Linked DNA regions of Homo sapiens. The protein of the gene in region 6 purifies or fractionates together with the protein of the main gene of each other region. This does not show direct contact. Each region holds a gene or a part of one and is shown on either strand. Other genes may lie near its edges.

Evidence for each region.
Region 1: the proteins of MICALL1 (region 6) and PLEKHA7 purify together in Homo sapiens (co-immunoprecipitation; one large-scale study listed by IntAct). This does not show direct contact.
Region 2: the proteins of MICALL1 (region 6) and KIF13B purify together in Homo sapiens (affinity purification with mass spectrometry, with the first as the bait; one large-scale study listed by BioGRID). This does not show direct contact.
Region 3: the proteins of MICALL1 (region 6) and CGN purify together in Homo sapiens (affinity purification with mass spectrometry, with the first as the bait; one large-scale study listed by BioGRID). This does not show direct contact.
Region 4: the proteins of MICALL1 (region 6) and RAB8A purify together in Homo sapiens (co-immunoprecipitation; 2 studies listed by IntAct). This does not show direct contact.
Region 5: the proteins of MICALL1 (region 6) and CREB3L2 purify together in Homo sapiens (co-immunoprecipitation; one large-scale study listed by IntAct). This does not show direct contact.
Region 7: the proteins of MICALL1 (region 6) and CAPZA2 purify together in Homo sapiens (affinity purification with mass spectrometry; one large-scale study listed by BioGRID and IntAct). This does not show direct contact.

The regions. Positions count from the first base shown.
Region 1 is NC_000011.10:17,004,415-17,007,914, reverse strand, and holds part of PLEKHA7 (pleckstrin homology domain-containing family A member 7), read left to right. Parts: intron 1-3,500. UniProt on the Homo sapiens protein: Required for zonula adherens biogenesis and maintenance. Acts via its interaction with CAMSAP3, which anchors microtubules at their minus-ends to zonula adherens, leading to the recruitment of KIFC3 kinesin to the junctional site.
Region 2 is NC_000008.11:29,066,778-29,071,070, forward strand, and holds the end of KIF13B (kinesin-like protein KIF13B), read right to left. Parts: intron 3,990-4,293; coding exon 3,727-3,989; 3' UTR 501-3,726; downstream 1-500. UniProt on the Homo sapiens protein: Involved in reorganization of the cortical cytoskeleton. Regulates axon formation by promoting the formation of extra axons. May be functionally important for the intracellular trafficking of MAGUKs and associated protein complexes.
Region 3 is NC_000001.11:151,514,387-151,517,886, reverse strand, and holds part of CGN (cingulin), read right to left. Parts: intron 1-3,500. UniProt on the Homo sapiens protein: Probably plays a role in the formation and regulation of the tight junction (TJ) paracellular permeability barrier.
Region 4 is NC_000019.10:16,114,889-16,118,388, reverse strand, and holds part of RAB8A (ras-related protein Rab-8A), read right to left. Parts: intron 164-3,500; coding exon 103-163; intron 1-102. UniProt on the Homo sapiens protein: The small GTPases Rab are key regulators of intracellular membrane trafficking, from the formation of transport vesicles to their fusion with membranes.
Region 5 is NC_000007.14:137,992,087-137,995,586, forward strand, and holds part of CREB3L2 (cyclic AMP-responsive element-binding protein 3-like protein 2), read right to left. Parts: intron 1-3,500. UniProt on the Homo sapiens protein: Transcription factor involved in unfolded protein response (UPR).
Region 6 is NC_000022.11:37,916,297-37,919,796, reverse strand, and holds part of MICALL1 (MICAL-like protein 1), read right to left. Parts: intron 2,091-3,500; coding exon 2,002-2,090; intron 762-2,001; coding exon 619-761; intron 1-618. UniProt on the Homo sapiens protein: Lipid-binding protein with higher affinity for phosphatidic acid, a lipid enriched in recycling endosome membranes. On endosome membranes, acts as a downstream effector of Rab proteins recruiting cytosolic proteins to regulate membrane tubulation.
Region 7 is NC_000007.14:116,904,087-116,907,586, reverse strand, and holds part of CAPZA2 (F-actin-capping protein subunit alpha-2), read right to left. Parts: intron 3,411-3,500; coding exon 3,204-3,410; intron 1,325-3,203; coding exon 1,245-1,324; intron 1-1,244. UniProt on the Homo sapiens protein: F-actin-capping proteins bind in a Ca(2+)-independent manner to the fast growing ends of actin filaments (barbed end) thereby blocking the exchange of subunits at these ends.

The DNA.
Region 1 (3,500 bases), on a different chromosome or scaffold from region 6:
TAAAAACTGCAATTACTTTTGCACCAACTGAATATCTTTAGGCCGGGCGTGGTGGTTCACACCCAGTAATCCCAGCACTTTGAATGGCCAAAGCAGGAGGATTGCTTGGGCTCAGGAATTTGAGACTAGCCTGGGCAACATGGTAAAACCCTATCTTTACAAAAAATACAAAACTTAGCCGGGTGTGATGGTGCATGGCCATAGTCCCAGCTATTAGGGAGGCTGAGGTGGGAGGATCACTTGAGCTTGGGAAGCGGAGGTTGCCGTGAACTGAGCTCACGCCACTGCACTCCAGCCTGGGCGACAGAATGAGACTCTGTCTCAAAAAAAAAAAAAAAAAGCATCTTTAGAGATCCTAAAATGTAAAATTTTGTTCTTCTGTAGTTTTTCCCTTGACTTGTCATTTAAAAAAAAATAAAATTGCTATTTATGGGCATGGTGGCGAGTGCCTGTAATCCCAGCTACTTGGGAGGCTGAGCCAGGAGGAACGCTTGAACCCAGGAGGTGAAGGTTGCGGTGAGCCAAGATTGCACCATTGCACTCCAGCCTAGGCAACAAGAGTAAAACTCTGTCTCAAAAAAAAAATTTTTTTTTCTATTTAATGTAATTCTACATAAAGAAAAATTAAGTTTAAATTATTAGCATAAATTTTATAGTTATTTCTATATTGTAGAATATAATGTTTTAAATGTGAATATCAGTGCATTTACCTCATATGCTAGGAGTTGCCACCACCATGCCCCACTCCAAGACACCATAGAGCACAAGCACCTGTATCCATGCCCCCCTGGGCAGCAGGGAGGAGCAGGGAGCCCAGGCAGGGCTTAGGGCTCCAGGAGGCTGGGAGTGGGCAGTTAAGAACCTGGTCCTCCGAGGCAGGGAGTGGGGACCAGGCATGAGTCCTTCAGAAGGTTACCTCTGGAGATAATGCCAAGTATCAAGGGTGTGTGTTTTGTATTCAGCAACCCATTTTTTAGTCTGAAATCAAAGGGAGTTGGAGAGTGAAGGATGAACCAAATGTGACAGATGTTCAGTTGGGGATTTTGTAGACACCAGGCCTAGAAGGCCCTTAGGAAAGCCAGTGAATACTGGACAGCCCAGGAGGCTGCCCTTAATTATGACCTCACCCAACCGACAGTCTTCTGGGCCACCCCTAGGAAGGAGTCTGTCCTGTCTTCTATATTTTCCTCCCTAGATAAATGTTGAACTTCATGGCAGTGAAATTTATCTTGTAGAATGTCAAACCTATTGATTCACTTATATATCATCTTCCTTTTTTTTTTTTTTTGAGACTGAGTCTTGCTGTGTCACCCAGGCTGGAGTGCAGTGGCGGCATCTCGGCTCACTGCACCTCTGCTTCCCGGGTTCAAGCGATTCTTCCACCTCAGCCTCCTGAGTAGCTGGGACTACAGGCATGCGCCACCATGCCTGGCTATTTTTTTGTATTTTTAGTACAGATGGGGTTTCACCATGTTAGCCAAGCTGGCCTTGAACTCCTAACCTCAGGCAATCCGCCTGCCTTGGCCTCCCAGAGTGCTAGGATTACAGGTGTGAGCCACCGTGCCTGGACGTTTTTTTTTTTTTTTTAGATGGAGTTTCATTCTTGTTGCCCAGGCTGGAGTGCAGTGGTGTGATCTCGGCTCACTGCAACCTCCGCTTCCCTTGTAGCTGGTGTTACAGGCGCCCACCACCATGCCCGGGTAATTTAGTAGAGACGGGGTTTCACATGTTGGTCAGGCTGGTCTTGAACTCCTGACCTCAGGCTGTCCACCCGCCTTGGCTTCCTAAAGTGCTGGGATTACAGGCATGAGCCACCATGCCCAGCCTTATTTGTCATCCTTCTTATTGAGATGTTGCTGGGAACAGCAGTCCCAGAAACTTTATTTCAAACCTGGGGGTAATAGTCCCACAAAGAATTTCTGGGAAACTAGCAGCTTACATATATACTAAAATAGAAATTCTGAACCCCCTCATTGAAGGTTAAGAAAGGTTTTCCCAGCTTGGCAAGTTTTGGCAGAATCCCATGCTTTATATTTCACTTCCTGGTTGCATTTTCAAGGGTAAAAACTGGTTCATGGATTTAAACGTTAGGTTCTGTGGGAAAGGAAAAACAGTGAGTGTTGTTTAGAAAGCGAAAGGAAGGATTAGGAGCCATGATTTATACCACATCTCCAAAAAGAAACTTCTTTAAGGAAACGTCTTTAAGAAAAATGGTTGCAAGTTGCTTTTTAAGGCTCTTTACCCATGAGAGGAGTGTGTTTTAGAGATAGGACAGATGCTGGGTTGGGAAGAGGTGTTTTCATGTGATGAGGGTGGGTGTAGGTTTCTTGTGCCTTGATGGCACCCTCTCCATTCTCTCTCTCTCTCTTTCTTTTTTTGTTTTGAGACAGAGTTTTGCTCTGTCACCTAGGCTAGACTGCAGTGGCATGATCTCAGCTCACTGCAACCTCTGCCTCCTGGGTTCAAGCAATTCTCTTGCCTCAGCCTCCTGGGTAGCTGGGATTACAGACACCCACCACCACGCCTGGCTAATTTTTGTATCTTTAGTAGAGACGGGGTTTCACCATGTTGGCCAGGCTGGTCTCAAACTCCTGACCTCAAGTAATCTGCCCACCTTGGCCTCCTGGAAGTGCTGGGATTACAGGCGTGGGCCACCGGGCCCAGCCTCCATTCTCTTTTGATGTCTATGGGAGTAAATTTGGTGCTTCCTAAATTGAGAACTTTGGAAAAAAATTAAGACAGCACTTTAAACAGAAACGTGTGCAGGGGCAGGGAGATGCCAGTTTACCCCCCCCGTTAAGTCTGAGGTGACAGAGGGCTGTAGGAAGACTGCTTGTTGGCTTTTCAGCCTCAATATGTGGAATATTTGGCAATTCAGTGAGGTACCTGCTCTTGTTTTCTATCTTCAGAGGACAGCACAGGTTTGAATCTCTTTGCTCAGTGTAAGACAGCATCATCTCAGCAAACTGGCAGGTATCTTAAGTAAATATTGGCAGAGGGAAAAACACGGAGGAATATGGTTGTATTTGCCTGTTGTTTTTAAATGGCTGTCAAAACATTTGCTTTTCAATTTTCTGAAATGAGAAATATTTTGAGTTAATGTTTTATCATTTACAGAGTATTTCACGAACATTCTCTGGTTTGTCCCATAATTATTGCATTTTTTTAGTGCGGGAATTTGGGCTCAGAGGGGTAAAGTGACTTCTCTAAAGTTGTATACTGGGCTGGGCATGGTGACTCATGCTTGTAATCCCAGCACTTTGGGAGGCCGAGGTGGGCAGATCACCTGAGGTCAGAAGTTTAAGACAAGCTTGGCCAATGTGGTGAAACCTCATCTCTACTAAAAATACAAAAATTAGCTGGGTATGGTGGTGCGTGCCTGTAATCCCAGCTACTCGGGAGGCTGAGGTAGGAGAATCACTTGAACCCAGGAGGCAGAGGTTACAGTGAACTGAGATTGCGCCATTGCACTCCAGCCTGGGCGACAAGAGTGAAACAGT
Region 2 (4,293 bases), on a different chromosome or scaffold from region 6:
TGCCCACCTCTGCAGCAGGGGAAAGAAGTCCTCTCACCCCAGTTTGAGGGGAGAGGGGAGGTCCAGTGTGGGGACCAACACGAAGGTCACAGCAGACAGTGGAGTCATGCCTGAGAGCCAAGGAGAGTCCCTACCAGGTCACCTGTCTCCCAGTAGCACCACTTACCTGGGGTCGAAGGGCCCCAGAAAGTTTCCATGGTTCCTGGCTTCAGTAAGGGGCTGAAGTCCAAACAAGGAAAGATGACTCAGAACCGGGGGGCCTCCTGGGCTCTTAAGTCCAAATCATGAAGAGTTCAGCCTCTGAAGTCCATGGGCTGGGGAGGCGAGCACGGCCTGCTGCTGTTCCCTGATCCTCCTCCTCCCAGTCTCAGTCTGGAAAAGCCCCGCACCACCTTTGCTGAGAACAAGGCCACACCATGACAGGATGGCCTGCCAGGAGCCCCAAAACCCTATGTTGGGGTGAGGGGAAGGAGAAGCAACAAGACTGGCCTCAGACATGATGCAGGTGAGAAATGGTCTGGTTTTATTGAGAAGCTGTTGGTCATTTGATGGAAAGACACATACGGTACAAAATTACAGGTGGTTTAGTTCATTACATGATACAAATCATTAGAGTCTTTACAAGTCATTAGAGTCTTTGGATTTTTTAAACTCCCATTTACTGTGTACCAAATCAATATAATCACAGAATCAAAGTCACTTCTTTATATGTGAACTCTTCGCATTTACACGAATCCACACATAGAGAAGCTGTTCCAAGACCCCCCAACACCATTAGTGTCTGCAGCCCACCAGGAAGGCACCACGGACTTTGTGGAGAGAAAGATGCTTTGGGGGTTCAATGGGTCAGTATCTTGGGCAGGAAGCACAGGGTGACTCCCGTCTTGTGTGCGTGCGCACAGCCACCAACACACACTCTCAGGACTTCCCGTTTCACATACAGGGAACTTTTAAGGCAAGAGGAGAAAATGCTAGGAAGTAACGGGGGATCAGAACTCCTCCACCTCTCAGGCTCCAGCAGTCACATTCCCAGCTCCGTTCTCTTGTTGAACCTTGGTAGGCCCAGAAACATCTTCCCCCTCCTCACCTCTGCCCTCCCGCTCCCTCTGGTCAGGCCTGGGTACCCAGGAACCCAGTCACACACCTGCCCCCTGTCCCCTCTGCTGCTGGACGCAGTGCCCGGGGCAGAAGTGAGCCTTCTCACCCTGGAGCCTCAGTCCTTCATAAGGGCCCGAGGGAAGTGGCGGGGTGGGGCCAGGGATGTTCTGGGCACACAATGGGGAGGCAGGGCCCCCAGAAGCATCCCCCACCCCCATCTCTGACAGCGCCGCGTGTGCAGTTACTGCCCTTCCCGGCCTTGGGTGCCATCTGCGGGCCGACCCACACTAAGGTGCCACTCCTGGGGCCTTCCAGGAGCGCATCGGGAGTCCTAAGGCGGGTGGGCGGGCAGGCGTTCTTGGGAGGTGAGTCTGCTGGTCAGGGAGGCAAGAAAAGAAGATAGAAGACGGAGGCCAGCCCGCCCTGGCCCACCACTCTGGAGACCGCACCTCCTGCCTGCCAAGTGCTGGCCCGGGGTCAGCGGGGCTCACTGCCTTGGTGACCACGTCACTGCACATCCCTCTTTCCCAGCCACAAGCTGACATTAGTCCGCACCGAGAAGCAAGAGTGAACAGGGCCTGGGCCCAAATCCACCTGCTCAAGTCAGGAACTCTGGCTCGTTCTACTCCACTGTAAGTCAAACCGATGGTAAAAAGCACGACACACACGTCCCCCAGGACTTTCCCAAGATGGTGCTACAGGAGGCCGCTGCTGGGTGGATGGCTCAGCCACCACGAAGTGCCAGGTCCCACCCACGCTGCCCGTCCGCCACCATTCCCAGAGCGTCCCCACTACACGGCCCAGGCGTTTCCCCTCAGGGCAGCAGCAGTGCTGGCCTCTCACCCAGGCCATAGTGACACCAGCGGACCCAAAAACAAACTTCTCAGTGAAACAGGTTTTAAAAAGAAAGCCGCTGTGCTGGGAAGCGGGTTGAGTTAAAGGGCAAGGCAGAGGTGACAGCTCTTCATCCAGGGACAGGTGCCACAGGGTTCCCTCAAAATCGGCTAAGGACAGGGAGAGCCCTGGAGGAGTGCCTCCCCCCAGGGGCCGGGCCCTCTGCCAGCCCGGCCGCAGCCTTCGTGTCCCTCGCCAACTGGGGAGAGAAAGACAACCTGTCCTCGCAGCCAGGGCTGGGACAGGCCCACCATGGAGACTACTCTGTTGGCGCCTTCAAGTCCCTAGAGAACCAGAGCCTTCCGCAGCGCTTTCTAGATGTTGACTAAATGTGAGAACTAGAAACCAGCTCCAAGGGTGGCTGTGTGAATCTTGACCCAGGACTCCTGTCCCTAGATTGGTGGCCTTCCACACATAGACGCTAACCCCCATCCCACAAACCTGGCACCAAAGGCTCTGGGAGCATAAGTGCCCCAGCCAGGAGGTGGAGGCCACCCCGGAAGCTTCCGGCTGTCCCGCCCACACCATGCACGGTGGGCCTGGGGGCGTGGCTGCTGTGAGGGTCTGGAGACTAACCAGCACACTCCCTGCACCAGCCCAGCCGCCAGGCCCCAGCCCCACACTCTGAGAGTCTGGGAGTTGCCGAGAAGTTAAAATGACCCAAAGACCTTCCTAGAAACCAAAAGTGCACCAAATAAAGTAGCAATGCCTCTTCCTTTGTCACCGACTACAGAAGCACATCATTCTCCCAGGTTTTTGCTCTCATCCAAGTTAAGAGTAAGGCCACTGTGGATCCGCAATAGAGGGATGTGAGGAGGGGGCTTTATCCTCTGCCGTCCCCAGGACCCTCCACCTGGGCAGGAGGCCAGCAGCTCTGCAATGGCCAGAGAGGCTGCAACGTGCAAGGCAGGCCCTGGGCCCCCCCACACAGGCAGACGACGATTGCGGCTCGCAAATGATTTCGGATTTTGAAAAAATAAATATAAATAAATACATTCCAAGCCTTCTGTGAAGGGAATAAACGGCAAACATAAGAGACTTTCCAGGTGTCTAAAGATGCCAAAACATCCACAGAGAAACCGCTAAGAAACCCTGGCAGAGGAGGGATGGGGGGGCTCAGGCCCTCGGCCCCCGTCTGGGGCACCAGGACCATCTGCCAGAGCCCAGGGCCCTCCAGAGGCACTTGTGGAACCTGGGACCAGGGTGGGAGGCTGGGGGGTCCCCCAGAGGCACTTTGCGGGAAACTGGGACCAGGGTGGGAGGCTGGGGGGCTTGCGGAGTGAGCCAGGACATCCTGGGTGGGTGGGGGGGCTTGCCCTCCAGTGGGGAGGAAAGGCACTGGTTACAATTATGGTTTAGGTTAAGACATTAGTGGGGCCACCAGAATGGAAATGATAGAAAGAGCAACATAAGGCCCCAGGCACAGGCACACAGCAAGATCACCAGGCGCTGCACCACCCAGGGTCTCAGTCCTAGCATCCCCCAGCCCCTGCGGGCACCCAGAACCTTCCATCCACCTGAGGAGGCACAGTTGAGGCCCCCACTTTACCCGGGTACAGAAGAAACAAAGCTTCCAGAGGCCCAGGGAGGTCACCAGCCCTGTGTCGTGCAAAAAGCATTCATCGCCCTGCCCCTGGGGAAGGGGCCACCGGGCTCCTGGCTCCTCAGGGCTGTCACTGGCAGGGCTCAAAAGGGGCCGGGCACCCCCAGAAAAGTTCGCCCTAAGGCAGCGGCTCAGCTGGCCCAGGATTTCCGGTTCTCAGGGTTCTTGTGGCTCCTGTCGGCCTTGGCCAGGGCAGCTGTCAGCGAGGCCAGGTTGGTGGCGGAGCCCGAGAGGGTGGCGCTCCGGCGGGCCTCGGGGGCACCCAGCCGGAGTCCTGTGCTGCGCCGCCGCACAGGGCCCGTGGCCCTGCGGACCCGGCTGGGCCTGACCAGCAGCCCGTAGCCAGGGTTACACCTGAAGTACTGCTTCCCGCCGATGGAACCGTCATTCTTACCTGCGGGGGAAGGAGAGGGTGATATGGAGGGCAGCCGAGCTGCAGACGGCCCCCTGCACCTCCCTTACCTCTGCAGAGGCCATGTGCCCACACTGCCACCCCCCCGCACAGGCCCTACACAGCCAGCACTCGGACACTGGCCATTGTCTGGCAGGGACTGGCTAAATGAATGTGGCCAGGGCCTGGGGTGACCGCCTCCCAGGACAGTGAGCAGTGGTGACCAAGGATGCACAGCCCCAGTCCTGCAGCCTCAGGTAGGAGGTGACAGGCCCTGGGGGCCCTGGGGAGTGCCTTGTGGAAGCAT
Region 3 (3,500 bases), on a different chromosome or scaffold from region 6:
AGAGTGAGACCCTGTCTCAAAAAAAAAAAAAAAGATTTTACTTGATCTTCATACATACATATAATACCACCATGTGGCCAGGTACAGTGGCTCATGCCTATAATCCCAGCACTTTGGGAGGCTGAGGCAGGTGGATCACCTGAGGTCAGGAGTTCAAGACCAGCCTGACCAACACGGTGAAACCTTGTCTCTACTAATAATACAAAAACTTAGCTAGGCGTGGTGGCGCATGCCTGTAATCCCAGCTACTCAGGAGGCTGAAGCAGAAGAATTGCTTGAACCCGGGAGGTGGAGGTTGCAGTGAGCCGAGATTGCGCCACTGCACTCCAGCTTGGGTGACAAAAGCAAAACTCTATCTCCAAAAAAAAAAAAAAAAAACACTGTGTGCCTTCTTCCCTTCCTCCCACCAAGGGAAGGCAGAACCCACACCCTGCTGAGCAGATACCTCCATCTCACTGGAGAAAAGGGGGCCTTCTCTCCCAGAGCTCATTTAAAATATAGAAGACCTCAAAGTATATCATCCCACTTCTGGAAAGAAACTTAAAAACACTGATAGCAGTGATGCCTTTGAGGTGGAGGAACTGAGGACTAGGAACAGGGATGGGAGAGTTTCTATTCTCTGGAAGAGCAGAAAGGAGTGGACATTCTACTGTATATCTCTTATGTCCCTTTTGAATTTGGAACCACGTAGATGTATTATCTATTCAAGAAAAGGTTGTGTTTTTTTTGAGACAGAGTTTTGCTCTTGTTGCCCAGGCTGAAGTGCAATGGCGTGATCTTGGTTCACTGCAACCTCTGCCTCCCGAGTTTAAGCAATTCTCCTGCCTCAGCCTCCCGAGTAGCTGGGATTACAGGCACCTGCCACCATGCCCGGCTAATTTTTGTTTTTAGTAGAGATGGGGTTTCACCATATTGGCCAGGCTGGTCTCAAACTCCTGACCTCAGGTGATCTGCCCGCCTCAGCCTCCCAAAGTGCTGGGATTACAGGCATGAGCCACGCACCCAGCCAAAAATATTTAAATGTGGTTTAAAAACTGTGCCACTCGGCCGGGCATGGTGGCTCACGCCTGTAATCCCAGCATTTTCAGAGGCCAAGGCGTGTGGATCACCTGAGGTCAGGAGTTTGAGACCAGCCTGACCAACATGGTGAAACCCTGTCTCTACTAAAAATACAAAATCAGCCGGGCGTGGTAGCGGGGGCCTGTAATCCCAGCTGCTCGGGAGGCTGAGGCAGGAGAATCGCTTGAACCTGGGAGACGGAGGTTACAGTGACCCAAGATCACGCCATTGCACTCCAGCCTGGGCAACAAGAGTGAAACTCTATCTCAAAAAAAAAAAAAAAAAGTGCCACTTTAAGGGGCCCCAGGTCAGGTAAACTTGTCTCAGCTGAGAGCCAGAGCCAACACCATCCATAGGCCAGCTTCCCAGGTCCACATTGCTAAAGCTCAGAGTCAGCAAATGGAATGTATTCCAGGTATGCTCTGGCTCCAGGAACTTGGGGGAGAGATTGTCTTCCAAGCAAATAAAAAAATTCAGCTTCCCCACCCCTTCTGCTAGTCTCCACCAGAGCCTAGCACCAAACTGGAGGATGAGCCTCTAACGTGCCAGACAGAAACACAAACATACCCAACTCAACCTCCCCATGGAGTTCTGGGCCAAGGAAACTTGGCAAGGCCCCTTTCAGGGACTGTAAAGTGCTAGCAAGCCAGGGTGAGATGAGAAGGGAGGGGAAGGGATGGGAGAGGCAGAGCTACAGGTGACAAAGGGCTTGGTGGGGAAGGTCTATCTGAAGAAGAGCATTCTTAGAATTCCCAGCAATTCTCAAGAGAAAGGAACAGGGAGAGAAGAGCCCTTTATTAGGAATTGTTCTTCATCTTTTTGGCCCTGGGACTCCATGAGAAAATGATGAAAGCAATACACTCTCCCTGAGGAGACAGCACATCCAAACTTTTATCACCCCATCTTAAAAGGCTTGTGAAGGCAGACAGGTAAAGTAGTTCTCCAAACCACTCATCCAGTAGAAGAAAATGCACTGGGCTAGAGTCAGGATCTGGTCTGGAATCCTGTCTCTGCTCTTCACCTGATGTATGCAACCTGAGGCAAATCACAACTTTTCTGGTGTGGTGGCTCACGCCTGTAATCCCAGCATTTTGGGAGGCCAAGGTGTGTGGATCACTTGAACTCGGGAGTTTGAGACCAGCCTGAGCAATATGGCAAAACCCCATCTCTACAAAAAATACAAAAAACTAGCCGAGTATGGTGGTACACACCTGTAGTCCCAGCGACTTAGGAGGCTGAGGCAGGAGGATCACCTGAGCCCAGGAGGTTGAAGCTGCAGTGAGCTGTAATTGCACCACTGCACTCCAGCTTGGGCAATAGAGTAAGACTCTGTCTCAAAAACAACAACGACAACAAAAAACCCACAACTTTTCTGTGCCTCAGTTTCCTCATCTGTAAAATGGGTATAATGATAATACCCCACAAGGTTATTATCTGTGAGAATGAGATAATAAATAATTATATGGGCATATACAATGATAAAAAAGTACCAAGTTATACCCTTAAGATCTTTGTACTTTATTTAGGCCAGGCGCAGTGGCTCATGCCTGTAATCCCAACACTTTGGGAGGCTGAGATAGGCAGATCACCTGAAGTCAGAAGTTCAATAACAGCCCGGCCAACATGGTGAAACCCCACGTCTACTAAAAATACAAAAATTAGCTGTGCGTGGTGGTGCACGCCTGGAATCCCAGCTACTGGGGAGGCCGAGGCAGGAGAATTGCTTAAACCTGAGAGGCACAGGCTGCAGTGAGCCGAGATCCGCCAGCCTGGGTCACAGAGCAGGACTCCATCTCAAAAAAAAAAAAAAAGATGTTTGTACTTTATTGAACTTGGGTTCTAATTTAATAAAAAGGAGAGAAAAACAAGATATTAAACATGAAAACATTTAGCATGTGACTATCACAAAGCTGACAACAAATATCATCCTTCACACATGCTACTTTGTCCAACAGGCACTTTTGGCTTCACCTGGTTCATAGAAAGATGTCACTTCTTCAGAGAAGCCTTCCCTGACCACCACTCCCACAAACAAGGTCAGTTCTCACAAATCAGCCTCCCACAAACCAGGTCAGATCCACGTTATACGCTCTATAGTTGTCCTTCAGCAGGTTTACTCCAGTTTATATTTATACATTTATTGGAGTAATTATTTCCTGTCTGTCTCCCCTACGAGATAATAAGCTCCTGGAGGGCAAAGACCATGGCTAGCAGCTAACCACTGTGTCCCCAGGTGTTTGGACACGTGGTAGATGTCAACAAATATTTGTTAAAGGCTGTATCCTGAACTAAAGCCCACTTGCACAGCAGTGGGGAGATTTGCCCAGGACAAATCTACTTTGCCTCAGTAACAGGACCTCTTAGCAACAGGACCTCCTCCTGGTCCAGACTTGCTGCCCTATGTAGTCATGATCTTAGAACCAGAAGTGCCTAGATTGCCA
Region 4 (3,500 bases), on a different chromosome or scaffold from region 6:
ATGGAGGCCAAGGTCACAGGGACGGTGGAGGGAGAAGGCCAAGGGCTTCTGGCTTGAAGCCATTGCCAGGTGGAGAGAATGACAGAGAACAATGACTCTTACCATATCTGCAGTTTAATTCTCTTGCCATCGAGCTCTATGGTCCTAATTTTAAAGTCAATTCCTGAAAGAAAAAAGAAAAAAGGCACGTCACTGTCAGCCCATTTCCCAAGTTGTGTCTGAGCTGGGCGCCACCAACCTGTGCAGGTGACAGCTGTTGTGGCTTACGGAGACCCTGCCTGGTGCTGGGCATGCAGGATGTCGGAATATCCAGATCTGGAAACACTTGGAGATATTTTCCCTCTCCAAGAGCTGATGGGAGCAGTGCAGAGCAAACCCAGGGGGCGCGGGTGGCAAAGCCCTGCTCTTGTCCCTTGCTGCCAGCTGAACCCGCCTCCCCACCCCAGGCAGTTGTACGGAGTGGGTCTCAACAGAGCCCTCTGCAGGCCTGAGTCCCTTGCTCCCCAACACCCTGCAGCTGACCAACCCCCAGGCACACAGGGCCTTAGGCCCCACCATGCGTCAATGCACATGGTCACGTTCTCTCCTGCCCCCAGCTTTTGTACATGCTATTCATTTTCTGCGGGTGGTCTGTGTCCCACTGGCCCGTCAGCTAGGCACACTTCTCCTCCTTTAAGGCCCCCTTGAAGATCACCTCCTAACAAGCCTTCCTGACCCCATCTTCCTTGTCTCTCACCTCCCGCTTTCATCCCCTTTCCCCACGGTGACCTCGCAGCCACCTTGATGTTCCCCAGGCTCCCACTGTTCACCCGCAGTCCCCTCCCCAGCCTTCAAAAATATAACCCTAACCATGTTACACAGCTAACCTCTGCTCCAAACTTACTTTCTTTTTTTTTTTTTGAGATGGAGTCTCGCTCTGTCGCCCAGGCTGGAGTGCAGTGGCACAATCTTGGCTCACTGCAGCCTCTGTCTCCCAGGTTCAAGTGATTCTCCTGCCTCAGCCTCCCGAGTAGCTGGGACCACAGGTGCCTGCCACAATGCCCGGCCAATTTTTGAGTTTTTAGTAGAGATGGGGTTTCACCGTGTTGGCCAGGCTGGTCTCAAACTCCTGACCTCAAATGATCTGCCTGCCTCAGCCTCCCAAAGTGCTGGGATTATAGGCATCAGCCACCGCACCCGGCCCTCTGCTCCAAACTTTCTAGTATGTCCACCAACAGATGAATGGATGAACAAAATGTGGTCCAACCATACAACAGAATATGACCCAGTCATAAAAAGGAACGGAGTACTCATCCATGCTATACAATGTGGATGAACCTTGAAGACAGGATGCTGAGAGAAGCCAGACACTAAAGGTCACTTAGTGTGAGATTCCATTAACAGACATGTCCAGCATAGGCTCATTCATAGAAACAGAAAGCTGATTAGCAGTTGTCTGGGGCTGGGGGGGCACATGGGGAAACTGGAAGGGTTGGTATCCTTTTTTTTTTTTTTTTTGAGATGGAGTTTCTCTGTCACCAGGCTGGAGTGCAGTGGTGCGATCTTGGCTAGCCTGGAGTGCAGTGGTGCGATCTTGGCTAGCCTGGAGTGCAGTGGTGCAATCTTGGCTCACTGCAACCTCTGCCTCCCGGGTTCAAGTGATTCTCCTGCCACAGCCTCCCAAGTAGCTGGGACTGCCGGCACGCGCCACCATGCCCAGCTAATTTTTCTATTTTTAGTAGAGACAGGGTTTCACCATGTTGGCCAGGCTGTTCTCGATCTCTTGACCTCGTGATCTGCCCACCTCAGCCTCCCAAAGTACTGGGATTACAGGCGTGAGCCACTGTGCCACCGTGCGTGCCTGGCCTTGGGTTGGTGTCTTTTTGGCATAATAAAAATGTTCCCAAATTGCCTGTGGTGATGGTTGTGGAACTCTGTGAATGTACCCAAAGCCACTGAATTGTACACTGCAAATGGGTGAACTGTATGCGAATTCTATCTCATAAAGCTATTTTTTTTTAAAGCCTCTTTCAGTGGCTTCCCTGCCCCACTTCCCTCGAATAAAGTGGAAACAGCTGCTCATGTGTGTCAAGGTCCTGCCTAACCTGGTCACCTCTCAGCACTCTGGCTCATGACCTGCTCTCTCTGGCCACACCATCCACACAGCGATTTCCTCAACATTCCAAGCATGCTCCTGACTCGGGGCTTTGATGTTTGCTCTTCCCTGCCCTGGAAAGTTCTTTCTTCTGTAGCTACCTGGCTATCCCTTTGTTCAGGTTCCCATTCAAGTTCCCTCCTCAGGGGAACCTTTCTGACCATCCTCATCAGTTCTCCCTTTACCTATTTATTAACATAACTGACATACATGTATGTATCTGCTGCATGGACCTGGGCATAATGCTTGCAGATCATAATGGCCCATGTAGATGAGAAACAGCCAGACCCAGCCTTTGCCACCAGGAGTTTGTTCAAGTGCCTGCTGGGGAAGACTTGAGGCCCAGGCCTGGCTGGGCCTCTCTGAACCCAGGGTGGGGATGCTAATTCCATCCATCCAGCCCCAGCACTGGACTTTCGCCCTCTCAAACGTAAGCTCCCTGGGGCAGGGAACTGACAAGTCTCATCCACTGCTATTACCTCCAGTGACTGAACACACAGGGGTTGAATACACATTTGCTAGAAGCTGGTACCCCAGTCCTGCACGCACCTTGACTCACCTGTGTCCTTTCTGCAGCCCTCTTGCCAAAATGGCTGCCTGGCCCACAGAAGACACTGGCAAAATATGGCTGGATCAAAGTATTAAAGCGCAACAGGGTCTACGCGGTGTTGAGCGGTTCACAAAGCACTTTCTCAAATGCCAACCCTTTCACTGGAGGAATCAATGGGCCCCTGAGGAGGCAGTGGCGCCGAGCCAGGCTGGTGAGAACCCATTCCAGGGAGCTACAGGGCCAAGTTCACACCACAAATGATCTATGGGGCTTCTGAGAATAGGCTTTGATGAAATGTAACTTTTGGCAAAATGTTAAGGATTGAGTGGCAGAAAATGAATAGCCACTCAATCCTTGTCTATAAAGAAAACCCAGAGGTACACTCAGCCAATATAGAATTGCTTCTTTTTTTTTTTGGAGACAGAGTTTTGCTCTGTTGCCCAGGCTGGAGTGCACTGGCACAATCTTGGCTCACTGCAACCTCTGCCTCCTGGATTCAAGCGATTCTCCTGCCTCAGCCTCCTGAGTAGCTGGGAATACAGGCAAGCGCCACCACGTATGGCTAATTTATGGAATCACCTTTAAGCATTAAGGTGATACTGCTTCAGGACTAGACAGCCCAGTGTGCCTGGGCTTCCTAAAACATTCCCCATTTCCTGTCACACGTGTACAGGGACACAAAAAATCGAGGAGCACTGTTAGGTTGGCCAAGCTCCACAGCAGCACTCCGCCCTACACTCCTCTGGGTTTTATTAACATGCCAAATTTAATTAGGAAGTGTAAACTTTATGAGGCCTAAGAATTATGAGGTCTGAC
Region 5 (3,500 bases), on a different chromosome or scaffold from region 6:
ACCTACACCAGAATACAGCAACTCAAAAGCAGGCAATTCAACATGAGGTAACTGTAGCTGAGCCCCAGAGCAGCTGTACACACAAGAGGAAAATATGGTACGTGATCTAAGAAGTTACGTCTCACTTTTGAATTGACCTTCCACACAGTCGAAAAGATTAGACCTACCCCCACAGGATGCCACAGAGGGTTTCCCAAGCCAAAGTACAAGCAAAAGTCTAGGCAAAACACAGCTTGCCTCTAATGAGTGACACGGACTGTAGAAGCAGCTGAATCCCAGGAATGACCCATGAGCTCCTCTTGGGTTTACACTGCAAGAGAGCTGAGTCACTCAACATGCCCTGAGATAAATGGGTGCAGCGATAAGAAGGATCAACATCCCAGCTCTTCTTTGAAACACATCAAGAAACACATGAAAATTCAAGGGTTACCCAGCCAGAGCTGTTCTGCTGCTCAGGTGGACCTAGCAGGCTTGAGTCAAACTCCAAAGATCTGCTTTTCGTCAAAAGACAAATAACAAGTATAAAAAACTGAGAACCAGATGCACTGAAGTTTATAGCAGAGCCCAGGGGAACATACAGAGAGAAGAGAAGGCCAAGTACCAAAACACTCACATTTAACAGCTGGTATGGAAGCCAGAAAAGGAGGAAGAACTAAGCTTGCCAGAGTGTCATGGAAGCCAAAGCAAAAACGAGTTATGAGACAATCCTGTGGTCAGTATTGCCAAATAGTCCCATGAGGCCCTGCAGGTAAGGACAGAGAAAAGACTATTGGATTTAGCAGCCAGGGAGAGGTTGAGCAGTAGGACCCAGCGGGCAGAGGATACAGGGTAGAGACTAAGGAAATGGAGGCCATGGCTGGTGACCACGCACTTGAGAAAACCTGGCAGTAAACAAGAGAAAAGAAATGAGTAAGAGGGAGCATCTGGCAAACATGTGTTCAAGGCAGAGGCCTGTGTTTACAGCACAATGTAGGAGCTGGAGAGGAGAGGAAATAAAGATGCATGAGAGAGAATAATGACAGGCTCTCTCCACTTTCTGAATGATGTCAGACTCCTAAGGTTGGGACACCTTGTTCTCAAAGAGAAGACATTTGACTTAGGGGATAGGTTGGAAAAGTACTTCTATTATGGATCAGGCAGTGACATGCAAAGAAACTGAAATCCAAATAGGTGAAGTAATGTACCCAAGGTCACCAGAGAGCCTGTGTCCCTCAACATCAAAATGGCCTGCCTTGAAAGCCCACCCTTTCCACCATGCCATCAACTCCACTCCCACTGGAAACAGGGACTGTTTCAATCACCCCACGCCCACCTTGTTCTCTAATCAAAACAAGAAAAGATATCAACACTGAATTACCCAAGTCACTATTATACTGAATTTTCACATTTGCAAAACCGTTTACAAGAATCCAGAGTTTATTTGTTTGTTTGCTCATTTATTTATTTATTTTGAGACAGGGTCTCACTCTGTTGCCCAGTCCGGAGTATAGAGGCGTGATCACAGCTCACTGTAAACTCAACCTCCTGGGCTCAAGCGATCCTCCTGCCTCAGCCTCTGAAAGCGCTGGGATTACAAGCATGGGCTACCACGTCTTGCCCAGAGTTTTAAAAATATATAAAAACAGGCCAAAGCCACCCAGCTTATCCATTTTCCAGGACTGCCTCACTCTACTTAACTATGCATCAAGCACTTACGATTCTCTGGGCATCCTGCACTTGACTAAGGACCATGAGGGTATAGAAGAGACAGTCATGTCTCCTGTCCTCAAGGAACTTGTGCTGAGCAAATCTCTACTGCTCTATGTCTTACATTCCCCATAGATAAAATGGCCCATCTTCTCCCATGTGCCTCATGAATAACCTATACAATTTGATTCAAGGAAAAATCAAGATCCCTTAGCACTTCATTTAGAAAGGCCAGGGTGCATCCACTGAGCAGGGAAAAAGAGAAATAGGCTCAAGGTTGATCCAGAGACAGTGGGTCTCATTATTTCCTTTCCATCCTGATTCCACAGGGGCAGAAAACAAGGGCAGCACTCCCTCACTCATAAGATCACTCATTTGGACAATTCAGATGCCCTGCAACCATAGGCCTCAATCCTACCAAATGCCCAGCTAAGGCTTAAGGCTATTTACCCCAAGAGAGTCACCAGACAGCGTAGAGCCATGTCAGGCTGAGGCCGGCAGTTTTAGCTGCAGACAGGCACATGTGCCCTCATCAATATTTGAACAGCCATATGCAACTGGAAAAATTGCTTCTTTGAAAAATGGCATTTAGCTTGCCACCTGCTGTCGATCCCAAACAGAACAAATCATTCTTGTCCTGCATGGTAAGCATGATTACAGGCTCAGCTAGCTACCTCCAGCCCTGGTATTCTACTCTGACGCCAAGAGTCCAGATAATACAGTTAATTCTACATCTCCTAGTTAGTGAGTCAAGACATAGCCATAATCTCCTCCTGGCTCCCACCCCTCCCTAGCCTTTCCCTGCACTTTCAAGAGGCTATTTCTACATCTATAGTCTTCTTTCACTGGGCATTGGTAGCACAGCTAAATAATATTCTTAGAACTTTGCTGGGCCGGACGTGATAGCTCATGCCTGTAATCCTAGCACTGTGGGAGGCCGAGGCAGAGGATCCCTTGAGCCCAGGGGTTCAAGACCAGCCTAGGCAACATAAGGAGACCCTGTCTCTATTTAAAAACAAAAAACAAAAGAACTCTGCGAGTGGCACAGTACTTGGGTTTACTGTTTTGCGCCCAGGGCAAATTACTGTGAATTTTAAATTTTCTAGTTGCTAGCCCATGTTCATGAGAAAAGAAACATACCTTTTGACTAAGGAAAGAATTGTTAACTCAGACTATTTTACTAATGATCCCAATGGTCATGCTGGTTGAGTCTCCATCCCCATATGATTAATCTAAGCTGATAATATAAATCCCATTCTCCTTTCCAGCCATTGGCTTAAGAATGGTCATATGACCGAATCCTTACCAATAAAGCTTTAAGAAAAATCAGCTAGTGGGCTAGTAAGAAAAGTTTCTTCCATTCTAAAAAAGGGACACAAGAAAGAGACAACTTCTCTTCTTCCTCTGGATGTTGTCATTTTGAATGTAACCCCTGTAACTCCTATGTCCATCACACATCCAACCTGAGGATGAAAGCTGCACATGGGCAGAACCAAGGTCCATTGAGGAACTGCTGAATCAGCCAACAAGGAGCTCTATTTCTTTTTTTTTCTTTTCTTTCTTTTTTTTTTTTTTTTTTTGAGACAGAATCTCACTCTGTCACCAAGGCTGGAGTGCAGTGGCATGATCTTGGCTCACTGCAACCTCCACCCCCCAGGTTCAAGGGATTCTCCTGCCTCAGCCTCCCGAGTAGCTGGGATTACAGGCGCCCGCCACCACGCCCAGCTAATTTTTGTATTTTTAGTAGAGACAGGGTTTCACCATCTCGGCCAGGCTGCTCTTGAACTCCTGACCTTGTGATCCACCTGCCTTGG
Region 6 (3,500 bases):
GGCTGGTCTCAAACTCCTGACCTCAGGGTGATCCACCTGTCTCGGCCTCCCAAAGTGCTGGGATTACAGGCGTGAGCCACCATACCCGGCCAAAAAAAAATTTTTTAAGCTAAAATATTTCATTTTATTTTTTCAATGGCCTTTTTTTTTTTTTTTTTTTTGAGACAGAGTCTCGCTCTGTCACCCAGGCTGGAATGCAGTAGCACGATCTCGGCTTCCTGTAACCTCTGCCTCCCGGGTTTGAGCGATTCTCCTGCCTCAGCCTCTCGAGTAGCTGGGATTAGAGGTGTGCACCACCATGCCCGGCTAATTTTCAATGGCTTTTAAAGTACACGTGGCTTTTAAAGTGCTCCTTCATCCTCATCCAGTAGTTATCCTCAAAAAGCGTAGGCGCTGGAAGGAAAACCCCTGTGCTCTAACCCTGTTTCTGTCTCGAATCATGTGGCTGAGCAACTGCTTTTCCCCTCACTAAGCCTTGGTTTGCTCATCAGTAAAATGGGGATAAGCCAGGGGCTCTGGTGTGAAGGGCCTGGCAAGGTGCCTGGCGCACTGTGTGTGCTGAACCCACGGTAGCCCCCTCCCTGGTTTCGGGGGTAACACGCGGCCCTGGCCACTCACCGGAAGCAGTGGCGATGGTACAGCCTGCCGTCAGCCAGGTAGCGCTGCACCAAGTGCACATGCTGCTGGCAGGCTGCGCACGTGCTGCTGGGGGTCTGGCCGGTGCCCTGCTCTGACAGGCTGCCTGAGGAGAGCTCCTCGCCCTGCAGAGAACGAGGTGGGGGAGGTTGGGAGCAGGACATGGTCACCAGCCATCCTGTTCACATCACTGCCCTCTCCCTCCCTCCAACGGCCACCGTCACTCAAGTGTGCACCAGGCTTCGTGGTGGAAATGGACTTCATCAGGGCCCCAGGAGGGGCAGAGGGCAGGAGGCTGCCACTGTCTCCCAGGTGAGGAAGCCAAAGCCCAGAACGGAGGAAAGCCTTGTTCAAGGTCACTGAGCCAGTGCGGAAACACGAAAATCCTGACTTCCGGTTTCTGAGGCTTCCCTCCCCAAAGGAAGGCAGCTCCTGGCTGTGCAGCCCCTTCCCCTTGGCGGCTCCTGCCCCCTCCTCCTCCCCTTTGCGGGGGAGCCCCCCTGACAGGTTCCTGTCCTCCCAGGCCGACCTCAGCTGCCTTTTCTGTTCTCTCCTAGAACTGCCACGGATTTAAATCCCAGTTTCTCTACATCCAAGCACAGTGAACCTGAGCAAGCTGCTCAAGTGTGGGCTTGGGTCCCACCTGCAGAATGAAACTGTATAACCCCTGCCAGCCTCAGCCCCATGTACCCTCATGGAGCACCCACCCTGGGGCTAGCTCCCTCCAGCAAAGAGCAGATGGGAGCAGGAGGGGAAGGCCCTTTACACACTGTAAGGTGCCGTCCAGATGTGAAGGGCTGGTGTCACTTCCTCTAAGCCCTTCAAACAGGTGACTGGCAGTTGGCCCCCACTTCCTTACTAAGTAACCTTGGACAAATGACTAAACCTCACTGAGCCTCAGTTTCCTCATCTGTATACCAGGGCCCATAATGCTGACCTCCCTGGGTTGTTGAGAGGATTAAAGGAAATCAAGCCGGGAAGTTTACAGCTGTCTCCACAGGAATCAAGGGGAATCTTTGCTTTACTACGTGTGTAACTCCTGACAGTCCCATGATGGTGAAGTCAGCATTGTGGACTGCCCTCTCTCCCCTTGCCAGAGCTGGCATCTCCTGACCCCACCTGAGTCCTGGAGAAGGAGGTAGGGCTCCCTGCCCATAGAACGGGACTGGCCTCCTGACCCATGCCTCACTGCCCCAGTCAGGGACACCTGTTCCCAAAGCCAATAGGGCAGGGACAGAGAACAAGCACCCTCTGAACACTGTCAGGGCTAACTTCCTCACATGACCCAGTCACTGCAATGATAGTCGTCCACATAACTCGCCCCCTCCACCCCTGGCCCTCCCACCTCTCCAGGTATCTGCCTACCTGAGCCACATCTTCTGGTTCCACTGGAGTGGGTGCTACAGACGGCGGGGAACAGGGTGCAAGGCCCTTTCTGGGTGGCGAGACACCAGCTGCCAAGAGATGAGAAAGGGGTCCTGAAGCAGGTGGAGATCCTGGAGTCCCAGGAGGTCCCAACCTGGCTGAAGATTTGAGACCTGTAGCCATCACCTAAAGGCAGACCACCTAATGCAGTGGGACAGGAGCTGGCTCCCGCTTCACACGGGCCCGGGGACGCTTCCAGTTTTAAGCCAAGTGCTGAGGGCAAGCCATGAACCTCACTGAACCTCCATCAAATGGGGAGAGTGACTCCTACTGCACAGAGCCAATCCGAACAATGGCGCAACAGTACGATCACAGAACACAGCACCCGCGTGTGGCTACACCAGCAGCTTCCCTGCCACCAGGGTAGAGGAGGTGAAGGAAAGGAAAAGAAAGGAACCATATGGTGCTGCCCTGACAGCTCAGGAAAGGCGCTGCCTCCTTGGGGTTGACAAGGAGCTGTCCTGCCTATCCCCAAGTGGGTATTGGGGGCCAGAACCCGGCCTGCACACCCCCTCACCAGAACAAACCCACCCACCCTGGGTTCCTCTAAGACTCAGCTCCTCAGGCCGGGCACAGTGGCTCACGTCTATAATCCCAGCACTTTGGGAGGCTGAGGTGGGTGGATCATTTGAGGTCAGGAGTTCAAGACCAGCCTGGCCAACATAGTGAAACACCATCTCTACTAAAAATACAAAAATCAGCTGGACATGGTGGTGCGCGCCTATAATCACAGCCACTCAGCCACTCGGAAGGCTAAGGCAGGAGAATCGCTCGAACCTGGGAGGTGGAGGTTACAGTGAGTTGAGATCGCGCCACTGCACTCCAGCCTGGGCAACCGAGCAAGACTCTGTCTCAAAAAAAGAAATAAATTCAATAACACTATGGTTGGTGCCAGGAGTGGCTCCAGCTGACTGGGGAGAGGCCCTTAGAAGCCACATGAAGAAGCTGGACTTCATCCTGACATTACTCCCCAACCCCTTTCTGATTTCCCACAGCCACTCGGCTTCCTTCACTCCTGCCCTGGCTCCCTGAGCAGGCTGCAGCTCCTCCAGGGTGGGGGTCTGTCTGTTGTGCCCGGGGTCACTGGCACCCACTGAGCGTGGTGGCACAGCTGAACACTCAGCACAGCACCACGACATCTCAGCCAGGGGCAGGCTCCAAACTTACCCAGTCTGGTAAAAAGTCAAGGCTAGTCAAAGTCACTCTTGAAATGCCTCCACTCGCCCAGAAAGTACAGTACAGGACCATCTGGGGGAGTCGAACAGCCAGCTTTGCCTCCAGAGTTGGAACACATCACTGTTTCCTTTGCTTAAGCAGCAGATGGGATAAAAATGGTTTGCATTTAGGGGCCAAGTTGTATGAAAGGCACAAACTGTACCTTTTCTTTTTTATTACAAAAGGCAGATTTATTAGAGAAGGTATGAAAATACATTGCGAGG
Region 7 (3,500 bases), on a different chromosome or scaffold from region 6:
AAGACAAATTAGTAAGCTTATTGTAACAGCTCCAATGTATTATAAAGAAGAACGTAGTAAAAAGAATTTTCTTCTAATAGTAGCTCCATCTCAACAAGATTGATTTTATTATGTGTTTCCTGGCATAAATAACATAAATTAGTAATAATTTTATAAATATTGTTTCAGGATTCTAGATTAATGCTACAAGATTTTAGACCCAACACAGAGAAACTACACTTATATTAAGTCCATAAAAGTAACTCTATATGACAGAACCTTTAGGGAACTGTGGCTAGTCATTAAGGCATACATTCACATATGGCATTGATTTTCCTTCAGTGATGATGGATCTGCATTCCTCCAAATATTCTTGGTTAACCTTGCAACCCTGCATTTATTTCTGAGATGGCTAAGCAGTGGAGCAACCTTGGGCCATGAACCCAACTGGCCCACAGGGGTTACCTGTTACTTTACCCTTAATAGCACCACCAACCAACTTGGCTAGTAAGTCAAAGGCTAATATACTAAAAGGTAAATATTATGACCATACTTATTCTGGTGACCTCAGCATGTAAAACAGGGATAAACGTAAAGATTTCATTCAATTATGGACTTGTAAAGTCTTAAAGAACCTCAGAATTTTGTAACAGGTACTCAGAAATAGTCTTGTCTAAGAATAAAAATGACCAACAACTTGTCAAAGGTCCAAGACCAGTATGGTAAATCAGTGCTCCTGAGGGCTTGAAGTTTATAAGGAATAATGGAATTATTTGTACACAAAATTACAAGGCATGAATGTAATCTTCCTCATTGTATAAAACATGTCATTATTTCCTCACATTGGCTAACCAAGTACAAAGCAATCCTCTACTTCAGAGTCACAAAGTTCACAAAAGTAGTATCATTTTTTGTTCTATAATTATCTTTGTTCTCCTGCACATAAGTTTCATTCAGGAACAGCCCCTTCACAGAATGAGCATATGGATTGCCAACTGGTGTTCTCGCAGGCACACATGCTCCCTCAGGATGCTGTTTGCTAGTCCCATACTCTTTCCACTGAATGTCAACAGATTTACCACTACCTTTAGTGATTAGGCTGTTGAGCAAATTTACCTTCCTTATATCAAAAGGCTAAAATTTTATACCATCTCTAAATTGTTCTTAATCATAAACAAACAAGGTGTAGCCCAAATCACTAAAGCAAGAACTACAAAGACTTAAAACAATGCCAAAACTCCCCAATATCCAAAATTTTAACTTACCAAAAATTTTTTGCTTGGAACTGATGGCTTTCTATGCATGCAATAATGGTTTGCTGTCCATCTATTTTTTTGCCATACACCTTATTGGCAAAGAAAATAAGCATAAGAATGAATTTAGGGCCATGGAATGTCCAACTTTAAAAATCTATAAAATACTGCAAATTGTACAGTACTTTGACAAGAACACATAAAATACAAAGTAGGCCATCATTCCAATATAGTAGCTAGAAAAACATGTTCTCAAATATTTATGCGTAATCAAATTATTAGTGGACCACAAAAGGGGACACTAAATAAAATACAATTCATTAAAATTAATTGTACTCTGAAATATTCACGAACATTCTAGATAATCTACTTTCATAAGTAGATAATTTATTTTAAACATACAGATGCTAATCTAGCTTTTTCCATGCAAGTGAAAACTGGACCTAGCTTGTGATTATCACCTTTGTTCACTTCACAATCTTAGGGGCTGCTGTTTCTTTAGTCACTTAAAAGTACTGGAATAAATTAACTTACTTATAAGTGAGAAAGGTCGTTAAGAGAATGCCTGTGATGTATCACAATGCTATTTCACCTCTTGCCTACTGCTTTAAAAATAATAATTAATTTGTGCCTTTCAATCCTCTAGAATAAATGAGGACTCTCTAACAAGTACTCCCTTAACTCTCGTTATTCCTCCAAAATAATCCTGATGAACAAGTTATAATTCAAGTAATACATAAGATATTTGAGGTTATGTTGCAATATTTCTCAAATAATCAGAGAGCTAGATACTTAAGCAGACCATATGAATTTTTGTCCTAACCAGGAAACTTCCAAGAAAGAAATGGGGTACGCTACTGGTGATATTAATAATTACATTGAGAAAGCAGGTATAAACTAGGATATATGGTAGAGTTAGGTTGGAGGGGTAAGCAGAGGCCACGTGGTCACAGGGCCTTTAAGCCACCTTCAAAAGCCTGGACTCTTAAGTCCAGGCAACGGGAAATCTCTGAAGGATTTCAAGCAGGGAATTTTAATGACCTGATTTGCATTTCAAAAGATCACTCTGGCAATGGAAAAGGCCACTGAAGCACAAACTGGGGGTGCTAAAAAAGCCTGTCAGGGTACAAATAATATTATGAAATTTTTAAAAAAGAAATGTATTCCTACTACCATATTTTGTATTTCTTTTTTTTCTTTTCTTTTTTTTTTTTTTGAGACAGAGTCTCACTCTGTTGACTGGGCTGGAGTGGAGTGGCGCAATCTCGGCTCACTGCAACCTCTGCCTCCTGGGTTCAAGCAATTCTGCCTCAGCCTCCCGAGTAGCTGGGACTACAGGCACGTGCTACCACGCCCGGCTAATTGTTTTTTTTTTTTTTTTTTTTAAGTAGAGACAGGGTTTCACCATGCTGGCCAGGCAGGTCTCGAACTCCTGATCTCAGGTGATCCACCTGCCTCGGCCTCCCAAAGTGCTGGGATTACAGGCGTGAGCCACTGTGCCCAGCCATATATTTCTTGAAAATATAAAAATAGGTTGAACCTACGAAAGAACCACACAAAAAACACAAGAAATGTAACTGTAAAATACAGAAACACATAATTTTACTTCCAAGTAATTTTATTTGTTCTAAGATTTCTGTGACTTAATAAAAATAACTTTGATCTAAACTGAGACGAGTCATGAACATAAGATTACAGAATCTCACCATATCCTGCTCCTTTAATCAATGTATTAGAATTTCTACATGGATTTAAATCAAGGTACAACCATTTCTCTATTTTAAGCCATCCTAGTATATCTATTTATTATCCAGAATTTCTTGAAAAAATAGTAAACATTCTTAGAAATATTTAAGGAAAAAAATGACAAATTATACAATGTCAATTCTGTAAGTTACTGTAAATTTTAAGAGACGCTAAAGACTCACATTTACACAAAACACACACACAAAGCTGCTACTGATGACTTACAGTGCAGACTCCATTCGGGTAATGTTCTTTTACGTAAGCTCTCAGAGCAGTTTCTACTGAAGTTCTCCATGATTCAACTGCATTTTCTACTTCACAGGGTCTTGGATCAGTTGCCTCCTTCCTTAAGTGATCAAATTTAAAACAGATTCTGTTCTTTGGATCCAAAAACTTTCCATTTCCCAAGTCGCCATGTTCTGTTATCAATACCTTTGATGATGGAATGAATTTAGAAAAAAAATAAAAAAACAGCATTTCAATATTGATACATCATAATTACACTCATTTAAGCTTCTTCCT